Linked DNA regions of Homo sapiens: region 1 is linked to region 2. Evidence: fine-mapped expression QTL. Tissue or cell type: blood mononuclear cells. Region 2 holds a variant in brackets; the other region holds the start of a gene. All regions are shown on one strand. Distances are from middle to middle.

The links. PIP is the estimated chance that this variant, and not a neighbour inherited with it, causes the effect.
Region 1: ADAM19 starts here. The variant in region 2 is fine-mapped to the expression of ADAM19 in blood mononuclear cells (TOPMed, PIP 0.96).

Annotation. Positions count from the first base shown.
Region 1 is chr5:157,574,458-157,577,139 of GRCh38, forward strand. It overlaps ADAM19 (ADAM metallopeptidase domain 19), which reads right to left and starts at 1,318. Exons shown (of 23, transcript NM_033274.5): 1 at 1,146-1,318. The coding sequence starts at 1,239. LOC124901121 (a long non-coding RNA gene) reads left to right here and starts at 522. Exons shown (of 2, transcript XR_007059018.1): 1 at 522-913; 2 at 1,823-2,153. RefSeq lists enhancers at 14-543, 780-859 and a silencer at 1,030-1,469.
Region 2 is chr5:157,499,505-157,502,186 of GRCh38, forward strand. It overlaps ADAM19 (ADAM metallopeptidase domain 19), which reads right to left. Exons shown (of 23, transcript NM_033274.5): 13 at 69-158. Among named protein-coding and RNA genes, the nearest start is that of NIPAL4, 41 kb to the left of the region's middle. RefSeq lists enhancers at 497-546, 607-666. The variant C/T (reference allele first, on the strand shown) is at 1,496.

The DNA of each region.
Region 1 (2,682 bases), 75 kb after region 2:
GACCGCCCGACCTCGGCCCCTGGAAGTTCCGAACTGTCGGAAGAGCTCTCAGCCTCTGGGTTTGAGGCGGCCCGGGGGTCCAGCCAGCCCACCCTCGCTCCGCCGGTGCTCGCTCTATTTGAAAACGCTGACTGTTGGTCCCCCAAGCAGCAGTCTGGAGTCAGCCCAGCCCGTCTGCAGCGGTGGAGCCAGGGCTAAGCCTTCTCCGGTCATAATGAGAGAACCCGGGCACCGCCCCCCGGGACCAAGCCTTCCGCGAAATCTGCTTATAGCCCCCGAGGGATGGAGCCGGGGAGGGGATTGGTGTCTGGGAAACTAGTCCTGAGAAACACGGACATCACCCGGCATCTTAGCTGGAAACATCGAGTCAGACCCCTTCGCTTCACAGAAGGGGAAACTGAGGACCAAAGAAGGCGGCCGTCGGGTTGGCGTGGAAAGAGAGCCCTGGTTTCCAGTGCCACCGCGGACCTCAACCCGTGGCGTGGCCTTGGGCAAGTCCTTTCCCTTTTGTGGGCCTCGGTTTCCCCATCTGTGAAATGGGTGCGTTTGACTTGGCCTTCAGTAGGGCTCCTGCCAGCTCGGGGATCCGAAGTGTGTGGCTGCAGATACCCAGCGAGCCATCCCCTAGCCAAGGCTACCACAGTCTGCCGCGGGCATTTTATGTCCTACCCCACCAGTGTGGCAGGCACCGAGCCTGGTCCCAGGAAGCCGCTCCCAGGCCACACGGGCAGGGCGCTCGGGATGCTCGGCGTTGGCGAGTGCAGCGGGCGGTAGAGAGAAAGACAGAGAGAGAGGCGGAGCGGACACGAGGGACCGTGAGAAAACGGAGGAGGATAAGCCCCGAGAACGGCGGAAAGAGAAGCCAAAAGCAGAAAAACAGAGGAAGGAGAAGGCGAGAAGGGAAGGCTAGCCAGTGAGCGGACCGGCTGTTTTCTGGCTGCGCCGGGTTTCCCCGACCTCTGCCACCTCCCAGGGCGCAGAACGTGGGAACAAAGCCCGGGCTCCCAGGCTGGGGACGGCGGGGGCGCAGGCCCCGCGGAGTTGCGGGAGGCGCAGGGGTCGCGGTCCCAGCGCTCCGGACCCGCAAGGCTACTCCCAGGTCTCCGGGCCACCCAGCCTCCATCCCCCCGCGCCTGGCCACTTACTTGTCCATCCAGGCTCCCGCGCCGCCCGCGGCCGGAGGGGCTGCAGGGCAAACGCCAGCAAGCAGAGCCGGGCGGCGCCTGCGCCCCCTGGCATGGTGGCGGCGGCCCTTAGCGCTCGGCGCTCACACGCCCTCAGCCATACCTGCCCACTGCCCGGCGGTGGAGGCGCGTCTGGAACCCCCCGGCTCGCCCCGCGCCTCCCCACCCGGCTCCCAGCCCTCTGCCGAGACGCTCCGCCTCCAGCCCCGCGGGCCTCCGCCAGGGGATGGAGGAGGGGAGGCTCCAGCCCGGAGGGGGCTGGAGGGAGGGGCCGGGGAGGAGCTGGCGAGACTCGGGGGAGCGGGGCTGGCTCAGGTGAGGGAGACCGCGGGGAAGGGAGAATCCGAGCCCCCCAGGAGGAGGGATTTGTGGTGGACGCGGCCTGTAGAGGGTCGGGGACTCGGGCTTCTAGGAGTTAAACTGGACCCCTCTCCGCACAGCGGCCCGTTTACTGTCCCGCACTGTGCCAGACGCCTTGGGTGACACTCAGAGGTGATTCACCCAGCGCCGTCCCCCGGGGGCCGCCACTCTCGGAGACAGGCTCAGAAAGAGTTAACCCAACCGCCAGGCACAAAGAACTAAGTGCTATATGGACTTCTTTTTTTTTTTTTTTTTTTTTTTTTTTTTTTTTTTTTAAGCAGGACACAAATCCAGGAGCCATTCCTTCTGCCTGGGAGGAGGGAGTGATGAAGACCAGAGGAATCCCAGAGGAGAAGCCATCTGAGATCGGGAGGAGGAGAAATGGAACATCAGGCGGAGGAAACAGCCCAGACAATCGCACTGGGACGTGAAAACCCTTGGGCTGCATGCGGGGAGAAAACCAGAATTGGGGATGGTTAGGGTTTTGGAGGGAAACACAGGGACATGTGACCAAAAATAATAATAACTACTGTTACTTATTGAGGACTTTCTATGTACTAGAATAAGAAAATCATGATAGCTAAGACTGATAAAACGCTAAGTGTCAAACGCTGTCTTCAGCACTTTACACATATTCACTTATTTAATTAATCGGAGAAAATAACTTTTATGAGCCAGGGACTCTGCATACATTATCTCTTTTCATTAGCCCAGTAATCCCATGGGGTAGGTACTAGTACTATCCCTGTTTTAGAAATGAGGAAATCAAACCTGAGAGGCTAAACCACTTGCCCAAGATTACACAGCTAATGTCAGTGCCTAGATTCAAACCCACATCCGTATAACTCCAGAGCCTGATGCAACACACCTTATTTTCCAGGTGGAGAAACTGATAATGAGAGAGAAATGACTTGCCTAAGATCCCTCAGCAAGTTTTAGCAAAGCCTCGTTGTAGAATCCCAGCCTCAAACCTCGTCCATCTGTTCCTTTTTCTGAGCCTCTTTAGTCAAACCCAGGTTGACTAGAGAAGTGCTAAGTGTTGGAGAGGGCGAGGCACTCCTGAAGATGATGGGTAGGTAGGTCTATCAAACCCTACTCATGGGCACCCATGAGGGAAATCAAATAAGTGGTTCTGGCC
Region 2 (2,682 bases):
CCAGCAGAGCAGTCCTGTGGTCCCACTGTCAGGCCAGGGCCCAAGGCGTGGAGAAAAGGGCCACTTACCTTACACTGGTGGCAGCAGGAGCCGTGAGCACACTCCGCCCCCGGCCTCAGGGTACAATTAGAGGCATTGCAGCAGGGGTTGTTACATTCCTGGGGAGGCAGTGGGGTGGGTGTGAGTGGGGGAGGGCCTTCACCACCCCCAACATTTTCCCCACCCTTGCCCACACACCCCTGGAACCCCAGCTCTCTAGCAACTATCTCTTTTTTTTTTTTTTTTTTTTTGAGAGGGAGTCTCGATCTGTCACCCAGGCTGGAGTGCAGTGATGCAATATCTCGGGTCACTGCAACCTCTGCTTCCTGGTTTCAAGCGATTCTCCCGCCTCAGCCTCCGAAGTAACTCAGACCACAGGCACACCCCACCACACCTGGCTAATTTTTGTATTTTTAATAGCGATTGGGTTTCGTCATGTTGGCCAGGCTGGTTTCAAACTTCTGACCTCAAGTGATCCACCTGCCTCGGCCTCCCAAAGTGCTGGGATTATAGGCATGAACCACCGCACCTGGCCTGGAAACTTTTGACCTCAAAAATCATGTGACAGCTTCGTCACTAAGCTAATGTGTACTTGTCACAAGAACCATATATATGCACAATCATTAGTAACATGACTTGGACACAGCTACATCTTTTTTTGAGACAGTCTGCAACCTTCTCCTCCTAGGTTCAAGCAATTCTCATGCCACAGCCTCCCAAGTAGCTGGGACCACAGGCACACACCACCATGCCCCGCTAGGACACAGCTACATTTTGAGTATGAATATTTTTCAAGGCATTTTCTACACACATACATATATATTTATACTTACTTTACAAAATCATAGTATCCACAGTGTTTTTTTACTTAATATAACATGCGTATTTCTCCCTGTAACCATGTAGTCTTCTAAAATGGACTTTTTAGCAGAGTATATGGAAATTTTATGTTTTGTTTTTCTAATCCCCAGTAGAACATCCAGACACCCTGTCTTTCATGGGTGCCCTCCTGCCCCCAACCCTCCTAGGCTTTCTTATCTCATGAAAAGGGGCTGCCGGTGCAAGAGTCTGCTGGAACAACCTCTCCAAACAGTTTATGTCAACTCCTGGGTCTGTTTCCTTAGATTTTTTTCTCCATCTGCTTCTCTTCCTAAGCCCTTCCTGGCCTGGACCTTTCTGGAACAGAAGATCTCCATGGGTTCCTTGCTCTCCCCCAGCCTGAGATTTTTAAAAGATTATGAGGCGTTCCAGTGACCCTGAGCGTCCTCATCACACTCTTACAGTATTAACAGGCCAATCCATCAGCCATTGATGAAAAGTGTACGGGGCTCCACAGATCTCTCCACCACAGCCTTATGAGGCAGCCTTGACCCCATTCCACAGACAGGGATGCTGTGGCTCAGGCAAGTCCAGTAGCTGGCCGAGGGACACACCTGCTGAATTCAAGTCAGGTCTG[C/T]CTGAGGCCTACCTCATGTTTATCAACCTTATACCCCTAACTGTCCAGGGCTCTAGCATATTGGAGAGCCACATCCCATCCCCTGACCACAGACACCTGTCCACCTGTCTCCCCTAAGAGAAGGAATAGAACACTTTCCTCCCATTATTCTCCCACCATGTTGGGCTCCAGGAAGACCTGTATTCCTGCCTTCCTAATGTACCATATTTCTTCCCACGAAGGCACAGGCTCCCCTTCCACCTGAAATGTGCCTTCCCTCCTGCGTGCCTCACTAACTCCTAATGCAGCCTTCAGATATGGGCTCCAGGTCACCTCCCACACAAGCAAGGAGGTTCCCCCTCACATTATATATGTTCAGAGCACTGTGTCATTTGTCTTCCTAGCACTTGCCATGGACTGTACATATATTCTTTTGCAATTATTTCAATATGTGTTTCTCCCACTAGACTATCAGCTCCCCAAGGACAGGAACTATGTCATTTTTGCCACTCATCCTAACCCTAGGACCAGACACAGTAGCCCACACTCAGTGTGCCTGTTGAATGAGCAACTGCTCAGAACCTAAGCCAACTGGCCATGCCCACTCTCAGGCCATTCCTCAACCCCAGTGGCCCTCCATGTTCATACCACTCCCTCCTTTCTGATGGGTCTGTGTTGATCTCTCTGGGCTCATGGTGGTGGGGGTGGCATCCTTGACTAGTTCTTGTTTTATTCTGAAAGTGACATACTGGCATTAAAAAAAGAAAAATCACATCACAGAGGTCACAGGCAGGGTGCGGTGGCTCACGCCTGCAATCCTAGTGCTTTGGGAGGCCGAGGTGGGTGGATCATCTGAGGTCAGGAGTTTGAGAACAGCCTGGTCAATGTAGCAAAACTCTGTCTCTGCTAAAAGTACAAAAAAAAAAAAATTAACCAGGTGTGGTGGCACACACCTGTATTCCCAGCTACTCAGGAGGCTGAGGCAGGAGAATCGCTTGAACCCTGGAGGTGGAGGTTGCAGTGAGTGGAGATCTTGTCACTGCACTCCAGCCTGGGCAACAGAGTGAGAGAGAGAAGGCCATAAAATCAGATTTTTTTTTCCATTTATACAGAACCTCAGTCTCACCCCCATAATTTACTGTTACTTGTTATCTACCCCAAATTGTTATGCATGTATAAACATACATATTTTCAGCCTTCAAAAAATA